Linked DNA regions of Homo sapiens: all the other regions are linked to region 3. Evidence: fine-mapped QTL for protein levels in blood plasma. A gene starts in region 3. Each other region holds a variant in brackets. All regions are shown on one strand. Distances are between the middles of the regions.

Region 1 (8,193 bases), 21 kb before region 3:
CAGATACAATTATATTACTCTAAAACAATCTATTTTCTTACCCCACCCCACCCCCACCTTTTTTTTTTTTTTTTTTGAGATGGAGTCTCGCTCTGTCACACAGGCTGAAGTGCAATGGCATGATCTCAGCTCACTGTAATCTCCACCTTCCAGGTTCAAGCAATTCTCCTGCTTCAGTCTCCTGAGCAGCTGGGATTACAGGCCCACGCCACCATGCCTGACTAACTTTTGCATTTCTAGTAGAGATGGGGTTTTACCATGTTGGCTAAGCTGGTCCCAAACTTCTGACCTCAGGTGATCCGCACACCTTGGCCTCCCAAAGTGCTGGGATTACAGGCGTGAGCCACCACGCCCAGCCACACAATCTGTTTTCCTAAAAGATTACACCAAATGGCAACACCCATTCACAGAAATATTAAAGTATAGAAATACATATCTAGGGAACTAAAAACACGCATTGTCCTATTTCCCTCTGGAGCTAATGATGGTGCGGACTGAGGCATCATATCCACTCTCTTGACTTGTCTGCAACCCTGGAAAACCCTTGGTTGAGTTTTTGGTGGTTGGCCTAAGGATGATCTTTGCTATTCCCCATGCAATGGGAGTCCTCTCTTGGGACTGGTAATTAGTAAACCTGCTTTGCACTGACAAAAAATAAGTTTCTACTGTTTCACTGCTATGGCAATTATCTATCTAAATGTACCATTAAGGTTTCCTAAGCCTAGTCTGGCTCTGGTATTGGTTCCTGTATAAGTAGCATTTATGCTGGCCTATGCTTCATTGTACTTCTCCTGCCCCCAAAAAGGATAATTAACATACTAACACAAACATGTGAATGAAAGACAAGACCACGTTTTACAATTTCCTTTCCCTTGCTAAAGTTTAATCCAGCAACTTATTGAAATTTAAATTTACATGAGAAGATTCTTCTGTACAAGTGCAATAATTATACAACCTTTTCATTATATGTGTGCTTTCTCCAGACAGAAAAACAGAAATCACATCTGGTTTCTGTGGAAGGGGTTCCTTCAAAATGGTGTCCAAATGCAACTACAGACATAAGTATTTATTGCAGTCATTTTTTAAATCCTTCCCTGTTTTTCCTGTTGATAACAGTTCCATTTCCAAATATTGCTTTTCGGTCATACACTAGTGCGTTTTAGAGTAGATATTAACCTTTTTTTGTAAAATGTGTTTTATTCAATTCTGTTGGTAATAATTCCATTGCATCTTCTTGACAGCTGTCTTTCTACCTGATTTCCCCTTTTAAGGGTACACAGGTCAATCTTCAAAATTCTCCCATTCAAAATTCTCCAAAACTAAAGATCTTGTGGATTTTATGCTTTATTATGCCATTTTAAAAATCACATAGCTATGTAGCTTCTGAAATCAGACAAAAACCCAAGGCAACTAATGAAATAAAAGAAATCAGATTATGAAAATAAATCATTAATAATAGTAACTCATACCAATATTTGCTGATGTTGTTATATTGAGTTACTAGAGAGGAACAAAGGTACTGTGCTGTCAACAAGTATCTTCATGTCTAAAGATTGTCTGAACTAAAATTATGAAAATTATGTGCAATCACAAATTAATCATGAAGCAAAATTATTTTGAAAAAAGCCTTTTTTAAAAAAGATGCATATTATCATTAGAATGCAACTATATTGACATGGCAATAATTTACTAAAATCTGAAGTGCAATTCTTCACATCAAAATAGTAAATAAATGAAATTCCAAATTAACCAAGACATGAAAAGACAGCAAATTCCAGTACATGTGTAGAACTGCCTCACTGAAGCTGTATCCTGGATGAAAGGCGAAACCCTTTCCCAAGGACTTTTCACTAAGATAGTTTTGGAGGAAGACATAGTAGGTCTGCTCTTCTAATGTGTTCACCACACAATTTCATTTCTGGAGATCTCATACTTATTTTCTTCAATTGTTTAATTGACTTCAGCACAAAATATTATAAACATAACTAAACAATAAAATCTCAAGGAATGAATCTTACATTCAAAACTTTATCTTTCTCCCTAAAACTACATCCGATTTCCTAGACAGTTCCAGATGGCCTGCTGTATTCTCCATTCAAGTACAGGAGTCTCCAAAGCTCAAGACTCATTCTAGATAAAGTTGGGTTGAGGGGTACTGTTAACAGTCCTTATATACAATCCTAATGGTCTGAAGTCAAAGTAGAAAATAAGATTTGTAGTCAAAATATAAAGAGGATGGTATGACTGTGAGAGCAAACTGAGTAATGAAACTGTAAACGTGAAAGAGCCAATCCCTCAACATGAATCCTGAGTGGATAACAGTGTCTAAGTTTAAAATAGAGCCCAAAGGCCATTTGCTACCTAGAGCTCACACATGTACTCAGTTCCAGAAAACCCACACGTCTACCTAACTTGGGACTTTCATAGCTGACTGTCCTTGTTCACGTCACCTGAACCAACAAATAGAGTATGATCTGCATCAAAATAATCAGAACTCAGCTCTGTGAATCAATCAGCACTAAGCAAGTTTGAATCCTTCATTTGCATAAATAGACTTGATTGGGAACTTGAATAGAAACTTTCTCTATAAAAGCCGAACCCTCTCTTTGCTCTCTGGAATGCCCCTTTGTTTTATGCAGTCTTCCCAGTTTGCAAACTGTTCACTGGAATAAAGTTTCTTTCCTCCAAATTCTTTTTCAGAGAATTTTTGGTCACAAAGCCATGTTCTGTTTATTGACTAACTTTGAACTAGGCACAAACAGTGAAAAGATCAAGAAGAAAACAACCCTAATAAATGTGCATAAAAACCCACTATCATCTTCTGATATTTCAGTTATCATCTTAACATTCTAAAAACTATTTATGGACTAAGGACACTCAGTAACTATACTCTTTAATAATTTTTAACAGTTTCTCTTCCATTCGTTTTAAAAAGGAGGAAGAAATTTCTCATTTAACACTTACAGAAAGGATAAAACACCCTCAAATAGCTTGTTATCTTGTTAGCCCAGACTGTAAATATACAATGTTACAAGGGGAAAATAGGCATATCAGACATTAAAAAAAATAATCAAAGATCTTTAACAAACATGGCTAAAGTTATAAGAACCTAGATGTTAGATTCATGCAGCTCTGAGCTTAAATTCTGATTTTACCATTGACTCATGGATTAGATGAAGCAAGTCTCTTAACTTAGCTAAGCTTTAAATAAGTTAAATTATCTCATTTATATAAATTATCTAACTTAATTAAATGAGGTCATACCTAACACTTAAGAACTAATTTTTTATTTGTTTGAATTCAATGTTATCTTATTCATTAATAACAGCTGATTAATTATAGGCCTTTTATCCCCTCCCTCTAAAAAATAATTTCTCCTACATTTCCATTTCATTTTCCACATGAATAGAAACTTAATGGATAGTGTTAGATAAGCATCCAATATTTCAAAAATAATCCCTGGAATATGTCATTTTAAAAACCAAATGATGAAAAAATGTATTATTTTATGGGAGGAAAATTGTTTTCTCAGTGATTAAAAGACAGGAATTTTCTATAATTAAAAAGAGCCTGTTATACACCATAAACATGAGAAACACAAAAGGATTTTTCTTTCTTCAGACACAATATAAAAATAACCATGGGAAGCAAAATGATGCCATTTTTCAATAAGTCAAGATTAAACTCTCATTTAACACTTCAGACTATCTGATAAATTCAACCTTCTAAAATGGATTTTTAAGAAAGCAAACTATGGATTATTGGCTCCACAATTTACAATAATCAGTGACGTGACTGATGCCCTCATTGAAGTGATTAATGTTTTTGGAGTCATTATTTAGATATATGAAAAAATAAATAGAACATTTTTTAAATATAAAAAACTTACATAAAATTTAATATGTACCTACAATTTTTTTTTTTTTTTTTTTTTTTTTTTTTTGACGGCGTCTGGCTCTGTCACCCAGGCTGGAGTGCAGTGGCGGGATCTTGGCTCACTGCAAGCTCCGCCTCCCAGGTTCACGCCATTCTCCTGCCTCAGCCTCCCGAGTAGCTGGGACTACAGGAACCCGCCACCACGCCCAGCTAATCTTTTTGTATGTTTAGTAGAGACGGGGTTTCACTGTGTTAGCCAGGATGGTCTCGATCTCCTGACCTCATGATCCGCCCACCTTGGCCTCCCAAAGTGCTGGGGTTACAGGCGTGAACCATCGTGCCCGGCCTGTACCTACAATATTTTTAACCTTTAGCAATAGTTTTTTGGACAGGTGACATAAGATTATCTTATTCATGTTTCAATTAAGATTTCAAATAAGATTTCATGCATATGTTTCAACTTAGAACACAAAAAATATGATAAAGAAAAATCTTTGTATTTTGTATTAGGAAAGGTTCAAAGACAAAAATAACAGATGGTAATAAGAAATTATCAAACCTGGAAATAAAGCCACATAGAGAGCTTGGCACATAGATTGTATCACAGAGTTTATTTCTTGAGTATGTAAAAATAAGTAACTCACAATCTAAGCTGTTGAAACTAAATTTTATAGCCTTAAGGGAATGTGATTATGGGACATAAGTCACATAAACAGGCAGCTGTTACCTAGGCAGCTGTAACCTAGAAAACTGTAATTTTTGTTTCTCTAATTATAGATTTGCCTTCTTCCTTACCTACATTGTTTTGTAAAATATT[A/G]CAAATGACTACACAGCACCAGGAAAGACCTCTTCCCTCTTCAGGGCTGATCTTCATTTTAGATTAACTTCTCTCTTACCTTTCTCACAGAAAAACTTCATGCTGTCATATTGTCTTAAGATGGAATGTTAAATATACACTTTTAAATTGTAAAGAAAACCAGCCACACAAAAAAGAAAACAAACTTTAACCAATTAAAATGTTGTTACTCATAAATCAGCCTTGTGTAGAAAATGTTGTAATCCTGTTATATGTCTTTGTTTTCTTCCTATGTAAGCACAACTTTAACTTTTAGCTTTGGAGCACTTATCCCATTTCTCTGGAGTCCCTGTAACCTGGGTGGCTATTCCCAGATTTTTACTTGAATAAACTCATTAAAACTGGATTCTGATTATTTCAATTATTTCAGATTGACAAGTGGTCATAGAATTTCATATTCATATAAGACCTATCCAAATTCCATACAAATAATTTTAGGTTTTACATTCATTTCCACAAATTAACAGGAAAGAAAAGTAACATATATTAATCAAGTGTAAGTGTCAGGTCTTTAAAATCTGTTAATCTGTTAATCTTCAAAACAGGTCTTCGAGATTGATTATTTTCCCAATTTAACTGAAAAAAAAAATCTACTATAAGAAATTTTCAACAGCCCATCCAAAATCACATAACTAGTCATGTGGAAGACGGGGATTCAAATCCAGGTGGATCAGCCTCTGTCTCAGGTCAGTTTTCACAGAAGCAGAGCATAATCAGGGCCTCCTTTGGAAAGCTGATTTATCAGGGATAAATGAGAACTTTCATAAGAAAGAAAAAAAACATGACAGGACAAAAAATTCAGCAAGGAAGTGGTCCCAGCAGAATAGCTTTACCCAGTCCCTAGGGGAGCTCTGGAGCACAGGTTGTACCACAGAGGTAAACCCACCCTGATGCACAGAGCCTGCTGTTTTTACATACATATTAGTCAGTGCTTGTTCACTACTGGAGAGCCTATGATTAGTTCTGTCATTATTATTATTTTATTTTAGCACCTTTCACATTGCTATTCTCTTCCTGGAATTTGTTTTCCCAAGCAAAAATTTTTGGCTAAAAAGTTCCGTCTACGTTTTGAAACCCATAGGAAAGTCATTACTTCTGTGACACCTTACACAGCTATTCCCAGAGCTGGGAAACTTTACTCTTTGCACTTTTTGTCTCCCTCTCCTTCTATGAAGGATGTATTTTCTTTAATGCATCTGGGCTCCCAAGCACTTAACATTATTTCCTGGCATATTCCCTGATAGATATCAAGTTCTTTGTGAATATTAATTGAATTAATTTATATATCCTTAATTGCTATAAACCAACCAATTGCCAAGTTATCCCTCTTGCTGGTTGTAAAAAGTGTCATTTACAGATGGGGTCTTTCAGCTCAGTAGACTAAACTTCTGTAGGAAGAGAGTAAGTTACAGAGGATGTGTAGTATTCCTAGAATACCACTTCTCTCCTCTTACCTCACACATGCTAGGCACAGTATACGGTTTTATAATCTGCCTCAGGAAAAAATAAAAATAACATTCTAGATGATTGTGTAACTCCTACATCAGAGGACTTAGTTAATTTCCAAGAAGTTATTATGAACTTTCCGGTTCTAAACTCTGCCCTGAAATCGGGGAAATGGTAAATAATAGACCTTCTAGCGTCCTTCACTTGCAAGCATTAAGAGCTCAAATCAGCAGAGGTTTCAATGACAACGATTGTTCACCACACCCTTTGGTCTTACTAACAATAATTCATTTACTCTCCTCTTTAGGACCTCTGACCTAAAGTCATGTAAAAAGTCTCCTACCCTAAAGAGCTTGATCCTGAACCAACCAGCAGTTTTGTGAATTTAGCTTTCCTTGAGCCAGGCCGCTTTTACAGAACAGCCCTCACCTCAAGGACTAAGTCTTACTATATTTCTTTCTTCAACACCAGTGGGGAGAATTCTTTTAACAATTGCCCTGATAAATAGATTCATGTAATCTTATTGCTGTGTTGTCATAACCTTCTTTTCTCACACTTGGGAATATCAAAAGAAAAAAAACTAATAAATTAAGAAAATTATGTTAACAAAGTTTATTTACATAAACAAAGAACATCCATTCAGTTGGTTCTGTATGACGATGGTACCCTGCAATTCCCCACAAAGTGAAATTTATAATCATTCCATTGACAAGTGGGCTTGATAGAAGGAGAGGCACGATCTTATTATGTGTTTTCCCTTAATACTACAATATACCTTCCTCATTCTGTGCTGTAATGCCTCAGGGCTGCTCTCCTTCTCAGCTGCTCTGAGATGTGGATACAGTTTATTTGTTCAGGATCACTGAATTGTAAAGCAAATTACTTATTCTGAAACCATTCTTATGCTAGAATGCTCTCAGTTTCACCATGGATGAGGAACCAAAGACTGATCATCACCATCTATTTCTTTCTCTCTTTTTCTCTGCCACTTTGTCTTGAAATTTTTAATTGCCAGAAAAGAAAACACACACACACACAACCAACTAGTTACTCTCTGCATTCAGTGGAGGATTTCTCTCCCACCAATCAAGACTCCTCTTCCACAGCCCCTTGCTGAATGCCAGGGATATGCCACATGCTTCTGTTTATGGGCACTGTTTAGGGGTACCACTCATCTTTAAGACATTTTATTTTCCAGAGGTCTGCTTGTATCCCCAGCCAGATCAGCTTCTTATTATAGAACATAGCCAGGGAATCCTAACTATGCTTGCAGAATGCACTACACTTGGACACTTCAAAACATTAAATCCGTTCCATGCTTACGTGGTCCTCCAATTAGCATTCTGTTTGGCAACTCTTATTTTCCCAGCCTGTCAACTTTTCATCACTTCTTTGAGATAAACACTGTCTACATTCAGACTCTGAAAGGTCAAAGAGAGACAAAAGGTGGTGATCTTCCAGAAGAGTAAGGTATTCATTTCTACCAGCATTTAGTGATTGTTTGGTATTAATGGAATTCATTGACTGATTTTCCATGGCACACCCCAGGCTTTAGAATCAGAGTATAGTGCCCAAAGCATGGCCCTGCAACTTACTGTAGCTATAAGTAATGACAGTCAGAAAGTAGACACAGGAAAAACCATATGAGTCACGTATTATATAGATCCTAAGAATATTCAAAAAGAATATTTACCCTTCTAATTATTTAAGGAGACAGTCAAAACAGCAACACAATTTTAAAGTGGCTATTGATATTTTAATGTTTTCATAATATCTGAAAATAGTTTAAGACATAGTCATTATCCCAGGATAAAGCTCATCTATATCGTTCTCTTGATGCTGATTGTAAAAATGAAATAAAACCTTACCAACGACTGCTAAAGGATGAAGGCTAACCATCATATGACTCTGTAGCTTTTCTTTCAAATATAGATGTTTTTAGCTAAGATATGATCAAGTCTTTTGTGAATCCAAAAACAGGCAAGGGGGACTTAATTTTTAGCTATTTTGCATGT
Region 2 (8,193 bases), 530 kb before region 3:
TTAAATGTTAGGAATGTAGCTAAGGTAACCCTTTGTAGGAAGATGTATAATTTCTAAATGCCCATATCAAAGAAAAACAAAAGGCAAAAAAAAATTTAAAAGCTGGGAAAACAACTCAAATAAATTAGAAAATGCTGATAGTAAAGAGAGGGACACAAATTGTGGGAATAGAAAACAAAATTAGAATGAAAAGTATAAACAGAAAAATTAACAATTTGAAAACAATATAATACACATCTTTCAAGCAATATTGATAGGCACAAATAAGCTATTTGGAATGAGAAATTTGGCATAAAATGTTTGCAGCTGAAGTTTAAAAGACATAAAGGCAACACCACATAAACTTTAAATCCATTGGAAAACACATAAGCAATTGAGAAATTTCAAGAAAAATATAATTTTGCAATATTTACTGAAGAAATAGTGGAAACCTATTTATCAAACGGTATCAAAAATACAGTAGTCTGGGCATGGTGGCTCACGCCTGTAATACCAGCACTTTGGGATGCCGAGGCAGGTGGATCACAAGGTCAGGAGTTCGAGAGCAGCCTGGCCAATATGGTGACACCCCATTTCTACTAAAAACACAAAAATTAGCCAGGTGTGGTGGCACGTGCCTGTAGTCCCAGCTACTCAGGAGGCTGAGGCCAAAGAATCGCTTGAATTCGGGAGGTGGAGGTTGCATGAGATGAGATCACACCACTGCACTCCAGCCTGGGTAACAGAGTGAGACTCTGTCTCAAAAAAAAAAAAAAATATATATATATATATATATAATATATATTGTATTATATATATATAATATATATTGTATTATATATATAATATATATAATATATATTATATATATATAATACAATATATATTATATATATATATAATATATATAGTAACACACATATACACAAACACACGCTACACATACAAATTGTGAGTAGCTTTTTGCAAATCAAAAGATTAGTATTTAGAATTTGTAAATAATACTTATAAAGCAATAGGTAAATGAAAAAATTTAAATAAGAAAATGGTAAATACATAGTCATATCTCAAAATGAGGAAAACAAATTATGTATTAAATTAGGAAATGATGGTTTTATCTCTTATGTAATTAAGAAAATGCAACTTAAGACCCAGTGAGCTACAATGCTATAGCAGATCAGCAAAATTTAAGGCTTAAAGTAACAAGTATTGGTGAGTACATGGAATGGAATAAGAGTGGTCATCCACAATATTTATATAAATAAATTTTAAATAACTATTTTTGGAAAAAGAATTGTCAATATTCTTTAATGTTGATAGACACTTGGCCTTTGATCTTACAACTCACTTCTAGTTCTATATTCTAGGCTATGTTTGTAGAGATATGAAACAGAATGGTTTTAGCTGCATTGCTAATAAGAGCAAAAGCTGAATTATCCTTTCTATCAATAGGAGAATAGAGAAATAAATTACAGTATTATCTCATACTTTAATTTGTTAATGAGAATTAATTGAACTACAACTACCAGTAACAAAGATATCCTTGAAATAAATATTCAGTGAAAAATGTGAGTTCCAAAAATTAGAGAATATTACTGATTCTATAAAATTCAGAATAATCAATACTAGCCATATTTCTTAAAGACAAATGTATATGGGAGAAAATGCACACAAATATGCAAACACACAAAGGTTGGGAACGATAAACACAAAATTTAGGACAAGCATTTTGCATGAATACCCATCTAATGTCAGTAATCTTAATAATGCCCCAAATCATGTGGTTATGTTGGTTGGTAAATCTATGTGTGCTTGTTTTATTATGTTATGTACACACCTTACATAAAAATAAAAAATAATTACTTGGTAGTTACAAAATATATCTATTGACATGGCAATTGTTTATACTTCTATAAAATAAAATGTATCACAAAACAACATATACAATAGTATCCTGTAAAAATGTGTATATGTAAAGCAAATTTTATGAGAGAAAAAATAAAATGTAAGGTACTTTTTTCCTTCTTGAAATAATTATACTTTTTTTTTTTTTTTTGAGACAGAGTCTCTCTCTGTAATCCAGGCTGGAGGGCAGTGGCTAAATCTTGGCTCATTGCAACCTCCGCCTCCCGGGTTCAAATGATTCTCCTGCCTCAGCCTCCCAAGTAGCTGGGATTACAGGTGCCCACCACCATGCAAGGCTAATTTTTGTAATTTTAGCAGAGATGGGGTTTCACCATGTTGGCCAGGCTGGGCTTGAGCTACTGATCTCAAGTAATCTGCCTGCCTTGCCTCCCAAAGTACTGGGATTACAGGTGTGAGCCACTGCACCCAGCCGATTACACATTCTTTATTTCTTTTTTAAAGAGTGTTCATATTTGAAGTATTGTTTTTTATTTCTTCTAAATTTATTTTTAAAAATTGTGTGGGTACCTAGTAGATGTACATATTTATGGAGTACATGAGATGTTTTGATTCAGGCATGCAATGTGAACTAAGCACATCATGGAGAATAAGGTTCCCATCTCCTCAAGCATTTATCCTTCGAGTAACAAACAATCCTCTTACACCCTTTATTTAAATATGTTAAGTTATTATTGAGTATAGTCACCCTCTTGTGCTATCAAATAGTAGGTCTTATTTATTCTTTCTATTTTCTTTTTGTAGCCATTAACCATCTCCTCCTACCCACCAGGTCCCCACTACCCTTCCCAGCCTCTGGTAGCCATTTTTCTACTCTCTATGTCCATGAGTTCAATTGTTTGATTTTTAGATCCCACAAATATGTGAGAACATGTGATGCTTGTCTTTCCGTGCCTGGCTTATTTCACTTAATGATCTTTTAAGTTCTTTGTTGCCTTTTGTTTAGCTTTTGCCTTTTGCCTAATATAGTATAGTTTGTTTCCAAATAAGCAAAATGATTTAAAGAATATAAAATACTGTGTGTAAGAACAAGATTAATTATAGTCAAGAAAAATTTTAGGAATATGACAGAGGAATTGAGGCTAGAAACTAGACCCTAGGACTATCTTATGGATGAACTGGATTTTCAAATGAGACAGATCAAACAATATAAAATGGAAAGAAAGTAAAAAAAAAAAACATGCAAATTAAAAATGGTACATAATTCTACTCTACTGAAATAAAAAATGGTACACGATTCTACTTTCTAATTAAAAATAGTACATAGAGTTCAATTGTTTTAATTTTTAGCTCCCAGAAATAAATGAGAACGTGCAAAGATGGTCTTTCTGTGCTCAGTTTATTTCACTTAACATAATGTTCTTCAGTTCTATGCTGTTACAGATGAAAAAATCTCATTCTTTTTTATGGCTGAATGATCCTTCATTATTATATACACCACATTTTCTTCATCCATTTGTCTGTTGATGGACACTCAGAATGATGGTTCCCATAAGCTGGGAAGGGTAATGGACATGGGGAGTGGGGATGAGAAATGGGTATAAAAATATAGTTAAATATAACGAATAAGAGCTAGTATTTGATAGC[A/T]CAACAGGGTGATTACAGTCGACAATAATTTATTGCACATTTAAAAATAAATGAAAGACTATAACTGGAATGTTTATTAACACAAAGAAAGGATAAATGCTTGAAATGATGAATACTCCATTTACCCTGATGTGACTATTACGCATTGTATGCTTGTATCAAAATGTCTCGTATAACCTATAAGTATACACACCTACTAGTACCCCCAAATTAAAAATTAATTAAAAATAAATCAAAAGTTAAAACTGGGATATGAATATTCTCCACGTAGCAAGTTCCAATAGACGGAAAGTATATTATATCAAATACTAGTTGATAGATTTGAACTCCGAACTGGGGAACTTAGATTTTATCCACTAGCCAATGGAAAACATTGATGGTATCTAAATCTAAACACCTTTTTTTTTTTTTTTGAGACGGAATTTCGTTCTTTCGCCCAGGCTGGAGTGCAGTGGCGTGATCTCAGCTCACTGCAACCTCTGCCTCCCGGGTTCAAGCAATTCTCTGCCTCAGCCTCCCGAGTTGCTGGGATTAACAGGCACCCACCACCACGCCCGGCTAATTTTTTTATTTTTAGTAGAGATGGGGTTTCACCATCTTGGCCAGGCTGATCTTGACCTCCTGACTTCGTGATCCACCTGCTTTGGCCTCCCAAAGTGCTGGGATTACAGGCATGAGCCACTGTGCCCGACCTAAATGCTAATTTTTAACATTGCAACAGCTGTAGAAATAATAACTGATAGAGTTCGTACTGGTAACTTCAGCAATGGCCAGATGATTCAGTTAAAATTTTATATAGACTAAAAATAAAAACTATGAAGGCAGAGAAAAGAACAATGAAGAAGTTTATGGGTGCTTCTAAACTTAATTTTTAACTAACATAAAGTTGATAATAAAGTATAAATAATGTAAATGATGACACATATTATTAATCAAGAGGAGAATTATTCTAAATTAATCATGAGAAATAGAATATTAGCACTCCCAAAGTGATTTGAAGATAAATATCACTGTACTAAGCTGTATTATGAATTATCCCATTATTAATAAATGTGTATAATAATATTTCAAAATAACATAAATCCTTGTTACATTAGAGGAGCTAATTTAGCAATGATTTATTTTCTTTTGCTAATAATTTCTGAGAAATGATCAGTAAATATATTGCTTGTATACAATGGTATTGTTAAAAAATTTAAGATCCTGTAATAATTCAGGAACCCATTTGATATTATGTTTGTGGATGGTTGTGATCTGTATGCATAGGTGATTATTTGCAAATGGAAGAACACAGGCAAATGTTTAATTAAAATCTGGGACAGTGAATCTAATTTAGGAGAGGGTCAAGATTTTACTGGTTTAAAACTTAAAGTATAATAATAAAAAAATAAATAAAGAAAGAAAAAAAATAATAATTAAAAAAATAAAAAAAATAAAAAGGTGAAATAGTACAACAAATCCTCTGAATTACTTTTTCTTCTTTTCTCGGAGATAGGGTGGATAGCAATGACAGTTGTTATATACAGAACTCTTGTCATGTGTCAGAAAAATATAAGTTCACTGTGTACACTGTATCATAGCAACCAATCATGCTACCTTTTAAAAATGAGGGAACTACAACCCAGAGTTTAAGAAATTTGTCCAAATTTAACAAAGCAAGTAAATAATAGAGGCCACACAAATAATCACCCCTTAATTAGTCAATGCTAATACTGGACATTTGTAAAAATTAATTAGAAAAAAATAATCACATTTTAAGGCAATAAGCTTAAGTTCTTTTAACCTACATTTCTTACACTCTACTTTCCAAACACAGCATCTCTGAAGCATATTAGAAGGAATAGTATTCACAATCTAATAATTTATCTCTAGAGGATAGTTTGTAAATACCAAATGTTAAGCATTCAATTTTCATATACATTCCAAAATTTTCTGTTATAACTTCAAATGATTGCTTTTCATCTTATTTTATTTTATTTTTACATGTTTTTATTATACTTTAAGGTCTAGGGTACATGTGCACAACATGCAGGTTTGTTACATATGTATACATGTGCCATGTTGGTGTGCTGCACCCATTAACTCATTATGTACATTAGGTATATCTCCTAATGCTATCCCTCCCCCCTCCCCCTACCCCATGACAGGCTCCAGTGTGTCATGTTCCCCACCCTGTGTCCAAGTGTTCTCATTCTTCAATTCCCACCTATGAGTGAGAACATGCAGTGTTTGGTTTTTTGTCCTTGCAATAGTTTGGTCAGAATGACGGCTTCCAGCTTCATCCATGTCCCTACAAAGGACATGAACTCATTCTTTCTATGGCTGCATAGAATTCCATGGTGTATATGTGCCACATTTTCTTAATCCAGTCTATCACTGATGGACATTTGGGTTGGTTCGAAGTCTTTGCTATTGTGAATAGTGCCACAATAAACATACGTGTGCATGTGTCTTTATAGCAGCATGATTTATAATCCTTTGGGTATATGCCCAGTAATGGGATGGCTGGGTCAAATGCTACTTCTAGTTCTAGATCCCTGAGGAATTGCCACACTGTCTTCCACAAGGGTTGAACTAGTTTACAGTCCCATCAACAGTGTAAAAGTGTTCCTAGTTCTCCACATCCTCCCCAGCACCTGTTATTTCCTGACTTTTTAATGATCGCCATTCTAACTGGTGTGAGATGGTATCTCATTGTGGTTTTGATTTGCATTTCTCTGATGACCAGTGATGAGCATTTTTTCATGTGTCTGTTGGGTGAATAAATGTCTTCTTTTGAGAAGTGTCTGTTCATATCCTTTGCCCAATTGTTGATGGGGTTGTTTGATTTTTTCTTGTAAATTTGTTTAAATTATTTGTAGATTCTGGATATTAGCCCTTTGTCAGATGGGTAGATTGTAAGAATTTTCTCCCATTCTGTAGGTTGCTTGTCACTCTGATGGTAGTTTCTTTTGCTGTGCAGAAGCTCTTTAGTTTAATTAGATCCCATTTGTCAATTTTGGCTTTTGTTGCCATAGCTTTTGGTGTTTTAGACATGAAGTCCTTGCCTATGCCTATGACCTGAATGGTATTGCCTAGGTTTTCTTCTAGGGTTTTTATGGTTTTAGGTCTAACATTGAAGTCTTTAATCCATCTCGAATTAATTTTTGTATAAGGTATAAGGAAGGGATCCAATTTCACCTTTCTACATATGGCTAGGCAATTTACCCAGCATCATTTATTAAATAGGGAATCCTTTCCCCATTGCTTGTTTTTCTCAGGTTTGTCAAAGATCAGATGGTTGTAGATGTGTGGTATTATTTCTGAGGGCTCTGTTCTGTTCCATTGGTCTATATCTCTGTTTTGGTACCAGTACCATGCTGTTTTGGTTATTGTAGCCTTGTAGTATAGTTTGAAATCAGGTAGCGTGATGCCTCCAGCTTTGTTCTTATGGCTTAGGATTGACTTGGTGATGCGGGCTCTTTTTTGGTTCCATATGAACTTTAAAGTAGTTTTTTCCAATTCTGTGAAGAAAGTCATTGGTAGCTTGACGGGGATGGCATTGAATCTATAAATTACCTTGGGCAGTTTGGCCATTTTCGCAATATTGATTCTTCCTATCCATGAGCATGGAATGTTCTTCCATTTGTTTGTGTCCTCTTATTTCGTTGAGCAGTGGTTTGTAGTTCTCCTTGAAGAGGTCCTTCACATCCTTTGTAAGTTGGATTCCTAGGTATTTTATCCTCTTTGAAGCAATTGTAAATGGGAATTCACTCATGATTTGGCTCTCTGTTTGTCTGTTATTGGTGTATAGGAATGCTTGTGATTTTTGCACATTGATTTTGTATCCTGAGACTTTGCTGAAGTTGCTTATCAGCTTCAGGGGATTTTGGGCTGAGACGATGGGGTTTTCTAAATATACAATCATGTCATCTGCAAACAGGGACAATTTGACTTCCTCATTTCCTAATTGAATACACTTTATTGCTTTCTCTTGCCTGATTGCCCTGGCCAGAACTTCCAACACTACGTTGAATAGGAGTGGTGAGAGAGGGCATCCCTGTCTTGTGCCAGTTTTCAAAGGGAATGCAGATCAACGAGACAGAAAGTTAACAAGGATATCCAGGAATTGAACTCAGCTCTGCACCAAGCAGACCTAATAGACATCTACAGAACTCTCCACCCCAAATCAACAGAATATACATTCTTCTCAGCACCACATCGCACTTACTCCAAAACTGACCACATAGTTGGAAGTAAAGCACCCTTCAGCAGATGTAAAAGAACAGAAATTATAACAAACTGTCTCTCAGACCACAGTGCAATCAAACTAGAACTCAGGATTAAGAAACTCACTCAAAACCACTCAACTACATGGAAACTGAACAACCTGCTCCTGAATGACTAATGGGTACATAACGAAATGAAGACAGAAATAAAGATATTCTTTGTAACCAATGAGAACAAAGACACAACATAGCAGAATCTCTGGGACACATTTAAAGCAGTGTGTAGAGGGCAATGTATAGCACTAAATGCCCACAAGAGAAAGCAGGAAAGATCTAAAATTGACACCCTAACATCACAATTAAAATAACTAGAGAAGCAAGAGCAAACACATTCAAAAGCTAGCAGAAGGCAAGAAATAACTAAGATCAGAGCAGAACTCAAGGAGATAGAGACATAAAAAACCCTTCAAAAAAATCAATGAATCCAGGAGCTGGT
Region 3 (8,193 bases):
TACTCCAAAGCTATTAAACCAACATGTTTGCTTTCTTTGATCACATTTATTTGTGTACAGTTTAAATGAGTTTCTGTATTAGTTACATTATTCATATCATTAACTTGATTTTTTTTGGTAATTTATATGCATTTTCTAAGCAGGAGAGACCATATGCCAGGACATTAAACAGCTCTTTTTCTTTGTTCGTTTTTTAAAACTCTATGGGGTTTACCAGTAAAACAGAGAAAAATGCTTGGCTTTTGTGTAAATTGAACATTTAGCTTTCTTTCAGGACAAATACATTAACTCTGATTGGGGGCCATTGATGTTCACTGTGATTAAATTATGGGATTTTGTGCTTCAGCATCTAAAGTTGCTTCAGAAAAGGTGAGAAGGAGGAACAAGCAAAAAGAGAAAGCTATTCAAAAATGTCTATTTAAAAGGCAGGATTGTTTTCTATTCAAAAATTTCTGTTTAAAAGACAGGATAGTCGCTGTGGGCTAGATACCATTAGACCTGTTCACAACACAGTCAAAAGACTACCTTTTCACCTGCAGCATTTGTTTCACTGAACAGATTACTTTAAAATAGAACTGAACTTCAGACCTATTGGAAATAAAATAGCAAAGTATTAAGGCAATGCACTCAGAGAAAGATATAATGAAACAAATATATATATATATTTGCATTAAGAGTCTCCGCTCTGCATTCCCTACACTTTGGAAAGAGTTTGACAATAAAAGACAGGTGAGATTACCCAAAGGCTATAGGAAAAACTAGCAATTACCACCACCTGCTAATGCATCCAGCGTGATCTAAACATGTGAAATACCATTTGCTTCACATACAGGACTACTGACTAAGAAACTAAGTTAACAGAAGTCTTTGGCCAGAAAACCCACTGTCCCAGGTGGCCATGGCTGAGCTACTCAGCTTTTCCCAGCAGGACAATAAGCTCATCCCTACTAACACAACTGTCCTTTCAAAGCTGCTCAGTTTAGGTTCTAATCTGCACAATAACCATGTGCCTATAAGAACTGTTAAATATTATACACAGAATGGCCTTCTGTTAGAGATCTTTAAAACATATTCTCTTCTTTGCAAAATGACACTGATAGTACCGCATTGCTTTTCATATTTGTTCAATATCACAGGGTATTCTGGGTATCCAGTAAAATGAATTCCTACAGAGTAATCACATTAATAAGATATGCTACTTATTATAAATATTTCATCTTTTTCAAGCCCAGCATTCTCTTCTGGTAAAATTTAATAACCATAGTTTTCACATACCACAAGCATTGCAGAAGTTTCAAAGCTAAAGTGAAATAGATGATTATTCCAGTTTTTGTTGTAATAAGTGTGTTAACTATTTTTAAAGAAATTTATCCCTATCAAAATCAACACTTTCATGAAAGGAAAAGATAATGGCTTTTTGACCCTGTATTAGATATCGAACATTAAATCTTTGGACGCTAGAGACTATAGAGCTTTTTCATTCAATTTAATTATAGTATCCTTAAAAAGCAAATGTACTTTTGGAACTCTAGAGATGTTCACAGTCTAAAATCACTGTGGGCTGGATTTCTATTGTTTAAATATTTCCTATTATTTATGCATGTGTTGACTGTCATCTACTTAAGTGTCCAAAGTTAGAAAATTTCCTTTCTCTAGAAGACTAAATCACAACATAAGAGTGAATGGCAAGAATTTAAAGAATAACTGTGATGCATAATTTGTATTGAACTGTTGAGAGCTAACCACAAATATTAAAATGGGCTCTGTATTTAGAGCAACTAATTATAATACTGGGAAGCAAACTGGTTTTCTTTAAAACCATCTGCACTTTATGAGCTGAAGTGACAAGCAAACCTTACAGAAAATGAAGAATCAAACTTACATTTCATTTTAATCTGGGAAAGTCACCTGGGCTTTGTTTGCAAGGAAAGACTAAATTTATCAATTATTGAGGGTAAATGAAATAGTCTCTACACTAAAAGGAAAGTTTGGTTACACAGGCCTGAAAGAAGGTGTGTAGATTAGGAACGGAATCAAGAATTTTACAGCCTTGATTTGTAAGACAGAGTAAGTTTTCTTCATCCTTTTCCATTTCAGAATTAGAAACAACCCTATATCCCTACTTTATTTGCCATCAGATGCACAATCAAATAATGTTTCTATTCACGTAGACTTGAAAGGATCTTCATCCTGTGTGGGTTATTTTATTTTATAGTAGCCAAGGGAAAGAGGTTGCTGCCAATATGATGCTAAGGGCATGCAGAATAAAGACAGTCCTGGGCAACTAAACAGTCCACCTTTGTGCTGCGCTTGTGGAAGAAAAAAGCAAACCCATCACAACTTTGGGACTTGATCAACAGTGGGGAGTCACAAAACTCTTCTCAATCTCTGCATTTTAAATCTCCACCAAAAATAGCTCCTCTGTAATGGGGCTTAAAGTCCCATCCATGGCCAGTGATGGAGTACAGTACTTAATTGTTTCTGACTAGGGTCTCTGCATCAGCACTCTGAGAGTGTCTTCTAACTTTTAATCGCCTTCTGTGCTCTTTAATTAGACCTGTTCACAAGACAGTCAAAAGAAAACGCCTATCACTAAGCTTATCCAAGACGTTGAAACATGCCATTTCAGGAGTCCAGGAACTTTTGTACAAGTCTTAGCATCTTCCAGGATTAATCTGTTTTCTCTGGTTTCCTCTTCCTTAAATCAGGCACACTTGGGGGAAGGGAGAAGCTCTATGGTTATTAAGACAACTCCAATGTAAAGACACTGCCTGGTGGCAATTCCCTCCTTGCCTATTTCCGTTCTTTATTTTGTTCTTTTACCGCGTGTTACCTTTTGGCTACTAATAGGACCGGAGGGTAAAATGTCTTTTCTCTCCTTCGGAAGAGAAAGCTTTTGATCCCTCACTGAGAGCAATCCTAAGACTTTCTCCAGGGGGCTGGGATAACTAGGAAAGGGCTCTGCTCTCTCAGAAGGATTTCAGAGCCCAAACCATACAGCGTCCCTCTTGCTTAGGCGGGAGATGCAAACAGCTGAAGTGCCTTGGCCCCCACTGGTGACCCACAGTAGGACCAACCTCGCCCCGGCAGCGCCCCTGGCCTCAGGTCACTCACGCTCCTGGACTCACCTGGTGCTGAGGACCAGCGCAGGCAGGAGAGGCAGCAGGTAGTGCGCTGGGCTGAATTTCATGCTGCTGCCTGCCGGGGTCCTCCTTCCCTCGCTGCCTTCTCTCTCTCTCTTCGGGATCCTGTCGCTCCTTGGTGCCCGGCTCTGTCCCCAGCCAGTGATGAGCGCTCTTCCGAGGCGGAAAGGCGGAGACGGGCACACGAACGGACGCCTGGGGAAGGCAGGCGCTGGGAGCGAGGAGTATCTTCAGGAGTGATGTCACCGGCGAGGCGAGCCCTGCCGGGGATTGTTCGGCGCCGCCGCTCCGGAGCCCGGAGGGCGCGCCGTCACTCGCGCTGGAGGCGGCGCGGGGAGAGGGAGGGGGCGCCTCGCGATCGCCCCGTGCGCTTCGGTCACCGGGCTGCGCTCTGGTCAGTCGGGTGAGCACTGGCCAGGGGCGGATCATTTATTCCCGCTGCTCCCCAGGATGGCGCGGGGCGGGGCACGGAGAGTAGAAACCTAATCTGCCGATAATTGAACTTGCGTACTCGGCAGGAGATGAGACCCAATTCACTGGGAGAGACTTCCAGACGCGTAGGGTCCTAGGCAGGTGTCTCTCGCCGCTTAAACCGTGTTTGGAAGAACGTCGCTCTGGAGAGAGTGTTTAGAAGATTGTTCTAATTAGAACTGCATAATGATTTGCCTGAAACAGATGGAAGGAAGCGGGAGTAAGCAGCGTCCAGAAATGCAACCTCAGCCCGTCATGGCATTGCAATCTTCTTAACCCGTGAATGTTGACTGCAAAGAACCAAAGAACGTTTCGGGACCGTTAAGACATCTGCTGCTCTGGGTTTTGAAGATTTCTGATCTTCCTCTGATTTCAGTCGTCTGTACCAGCACCTGCCAATGGGGTTGGACCTGGTGGCTCAAGTTCACACACCTGAAGGAGTCCTTTTCCTCAGGTGAAACTCATCAAGGAGACCTAGCGGACAAAAACCATTAAAATGTTAACAGTAATCAGCTCGGAATGATGGTACTGGAAGGTAGAGGTTTTGTAGGTCATTTGGTTTTCTATATTTTCAAATGTTCTATCATAAGCATCCAATATTTAATAGGCTCTATTTAGAAATTTTAATTAGAAAAATTAAATAGCACAATTATAATCCAAAACACCATTTTGCAAAAGCAATTCTGAGAAACAGAACTACTATCTCTGCTACTGAGATATTCAATTCTAGGATATTTATAAGATGATATTGCATGTGTGTGTGTGTGTGTGTGTGTGTGTGTGTGTGTGTGAGTGAGAGTGAGAGAGAGAGAGAGAGAGAGAATGAGAATTCCATCTGGATATTATCCTGGTTATATAACTGTGTATAAGGCACTTCTTCATACAGTATTTAATTTAATCTTCACAAGAGCCATCCTAGTGAAATAGACGTTAATATCACTATTATAGATATGAGCAGACTGAATATCATCAAAATCTGACTATGCATATTAAAAAAAAGAACTGGTTCTACTAAGTCCTAAGAAAAATTCCACTGTTGCCTCAAACATCACAACTAGCACTCCTAGCCCAGTGTTTGACACAAAGTTGTGTTCAGTAAAGGGTGAGGTGCACCAAAGTCCCGAAAGATAATGGACAGCTGTGTCCAGGAATTCCTATCTAGAGGTTTCAGTTCATGTTCCAATTATTTCGGGGGCAAGCTCTTTACAGAAAAATTTAGATGATACATCCTCTTCAATCTCATTTTCGAAGACATTTGTAGGAAAAATGCATTTGCTGTAAAGCTTTATTTTAAAGAGGATGCAAATCTAAAAGGTTAACCATCTAATTTACTATTTTTTTTAAATGGGATTGAAGGTTAAGACATGTATGTAAAACAGATTTGCTTCAAAATCTTGAGCTGCTGAACTAGATGAGTAATAAGTTTTGAAAAGTGAATATTAGCCCCTTGGGCAATAATAATAAGATCCACAACATTATCGATCTTGTATATGCCTAATAAGTAGGCATATACAAATAAACTAACATGTGAATTGCATATCATTTAAGAGAAAAAAACGACACCACACTTTTCTAAAACAGAACTCTGATTCCAAGTAAAATAAAAACTCTGGTTTGCTCCTGCCAGGGTTTTCTAACATAGATTCCCTGCTCACTTTGAAGGAGATTACTTGAGTTGTATACTCAACAAAGACATAAGGCTACTTGGCAATTTTTTTAATGTGTGCACCAGGAAATAACACTCATATTTGTAGAATACATTTTTTATATAACAACTTTGCATCCATTATCTTACGTCCTAATCATAGAAACCAAATGTGGTAGTTATTTCTAGTATTTTTCTCTTTTCCAGTTAAGGTGACAGTTTCAGAGTAGTTAAGTAACTTGCTCAAGGTCACTCAGAGACTTATATAGTGGCGATGGCATTCAAATTCAGTCTGCATTACTTCAAAATGTATGCTTATTTGAGAGAAAAACATTATACACATGTAAGAAAAAACTTTCCCCAACCTAAGTTTTTTTTACTTTCAACTAGACATATAACATAAAACAACAACCAAATTATCTAATATCAATGAATAAAAAAGTCAGAATGAACTTTCTTTACACTGTATCTATATTGGATATCTATAAAGAACCACAAAGTTTGTTGGCCTTTGTGCATTTACTGCAAGCCAAAAAGAAAAAAAAAAAAATCTCTCCAAAAGACATCTAACTTGGAAGGGCATGAGAGCAACATAGTAGGGGAGTACATCTTGAAAGGTATAAGTAAGATTCTGGAAACTCCCACAGATGTAGAGAATTGAAGTATTATTTTGAATTCAAGTACAGATGTGTCTCTCAGCAGAAGTCTTTTCTTCTAGGAAAATTACAAAACCAGGAATCTCCATCACCCATGACATTCTGTCCACATTGTCACATAAAAACCTAAATTCAGAATAAATTTTGTGGCTTTGGAGAATTGGTAGATGAATTTTAAAGATACATTAGTACAGATAGCAATTCACTTATCTTAAACTACTTATCCTATGCTGAGTCCTAACACTGGAGTCAGCAAGCATTGTTTGTGGTAACTGTACCCAAGTCTGAAAAAGAACATCAAGAAAACCCAAGCAGTTGTGCTGAGTCTCTATAAAGTGCTAGGATTAGGAGATATAGAAGCTGTTTTAAAAACAGCTTTATTGAGATTTAATTCAGGTACTAAGAACTTCACCATTTTAAAGTGTGTAATTTAGTGCTTTTATACACATCCATAAGATTATGAAATCATCATCGTTATATAATTCCAGAACATTTTCATCATGCCCAGAAGAAATCCTGTACCTACGAGTAATCACTCACTGGTCCCCACTTTATCCCTTCTCCTGAACCCCCACAGACACCAATCTAATTTCTCTCTTTATGGATTGACCCAAATCTTGACATTTCATATAAATTAAATCATACTGTATCTGGTTTCATATAACTACTCTCTTTCACATTCATGTTTTAAAGTTCATCTGTATTATAGCATATATCGTTACTTAATTTCTTTTTATTGCTGAATAATATTCCATTGTAAGGGTATACCACATTTTGTTTATCCATCCATCAGTTAATGGATATTATGGTTGTTTTCATACTTTCGCTATTATGAAAAACTCTGCTATGATCATTCACATAAAAGTTTCTGTGTGAACATCTGTTTTCAGTTCTCTTGGATATATACCTAGAAGTGGAATTCCTGGATCATATGGTAACTCTACATTTAACATTTTGAGAAACTGCCAAACTCTTGTTCAAGATAGCTGCACCATTTTACATTTTCATTAGTAATATATGAAGGTATCGATTTCTTTACAACCTTAAACTTGTTAGTTGCAATTATTTATCTATCCTTTTATTATTATAGCCATCTTAGCTGATGTGAAGTCTTATCTCATTTTTATAGGCATTTATCTGATAATCACTATCAACATATTTTCATGTGCGTACTAGCTATTCATACACATTTTTGAAGATACATTTATTAAATTATTTTTTCAATTAATTTTTGAGTTTTATTTTTGCCTAGTAAGAGTTCTGTCTATATAATGGGTACAAATCCCCCTTAGATATGTGATTTGCAAATGTTTCCTAATCCATGGATTTTCTTTTCACTTTCCTGTTGGTGTCATTTGCACCACAAATATTTTTAATTTTGATAAAGTTCAATTCACCTACTTTGAATGTTATGATTATACTCCTGAGGTTGTATCTAAGACAGCTTTGCCTCACACTAGGTTATGAATATGTATGCCTTTGTTTTCTTCTAAGATTTTTATTGTTTTAGATCTTAAAGATAGGTCTGTGAATCCAACTTTTGTGTATTTGTGAAGGAGGGGCTCAGCTCCATTGTTTGCATGTGGGTATCAAGTTCTCCTAGCAATATTTGTTAGAAAGGTTATGTTTCCACAATTTAATGCCCCTCTTATTTCATTCTTCACACAGTAATACATTTTTTCTTATTTCTGTTCTGTTTTCTGCCCTCATATTCTAAACTCTCATGTCCCCTAGTGTTTCATCCTTGATCCTCCTCTTTTAAAATTCTATATTTTCTTCCCAAGTTGAACTTATTATTTTTTATGGTTTTTACAATCTTCACTATGGTATGGATCTTAAAATTTACCCCAGCCTAGACTTCCTCGCTGAGACTTTACCTGGGTTCTATATGAATACCTCAAAGTCAAATTCAATCACATTGAACACTTACTCATTCTTCCTCTGTCTGACCCTTCTTCGGTATATCTCCTTATACTTCCATCAACTCAGTCACCCAAGTTTAAACCTGAGAGTTGTCTATTGCTTTTACCTCCACCTTCTCCCACATATAGTCAATCACCAAGCCCTAGAGATTTCACTTCCTAAGTATTTATTTATAACAATTGTCCCACCTCTATATGACACCTGTCATCTGGGCTTTAATTAGAGGTAACCATCTCTTGATTCGGAGTGTACTTTTTACTTTAAGATGGATTTTCCTCAAAACTATTCCCCTTGTATAATCTATCTAAACTGCAAATATCGTTATAATCTTAAATCTCCTAGAAAATTACTCTCA

Direction of the effects. Alleles are on the strand shown, and positions count from the first base shown. The strength of an association depends on the size of the effect and on how common the allele is.
With allele G in place of A in region 1, the plasma level of the protein whose gene starts at base 3,381 in region 3 is higher (moderate association).
For the plasma level of the protein whose gene starts at base 3,381 in region 3, allele T in region 2 goes with a lower level than allele A (strong association).

Evidence for each region. PIP is the posterior inclusion probability: the model's chance that the variant is causal. Protein levels are from antibody-based Olink assays in UK Biobank. Linkage for the fine-mapping came from a reference panel and not from the study's own genotypes, which makes the PIPs less certain.
Region 1: its variant is fine-mapped to the plasma level of the LUZP2 protein (UK Biobank, PIP 0.99).
Region 2: its variant is fine-mapped to the plasma level of the LUZP2 protein (UK Biobank, PIP above 0.99).

What each region holds. Positions count from the first base shown.
Region 1 is chr11:24,513,234-24,521,426 of GRCh38, reverse strand. All of the region lies in intron 1 of LUZP2 (leucine zipper protein 2), which reads right to left. Among named protein-coding and RNA genes, the nearest start is that of LUZP2, 20 kb to the right of the region's middle. The variant A/G (reference allele first, on the strand shown) is at 4,694.
Region 2 is chr11:25,023,579-25,031,771 of GRCh38, reverse strand. The region is part of intron 9 of LUZP2 (leucine zipper protein 2); the gene reads right to left. Among named protein-coding and RNA genes, the nearest start is that of LINC02699, 430 kb to the left of the region's middle. The variant A/T (reference allele first, on the strand shown) is at 3,490.
Region 3 is chr11:24,492,241-24,500,433 of GRCh38, reverse strand. It overlaps LUZP2 (leucine zipper protein 2), which reads right to left and starts at 3,381. Exons shown (of 12, transcript NM_001009909.4): 1 at 3,129-3,381. The coding sequence starts at 3,190.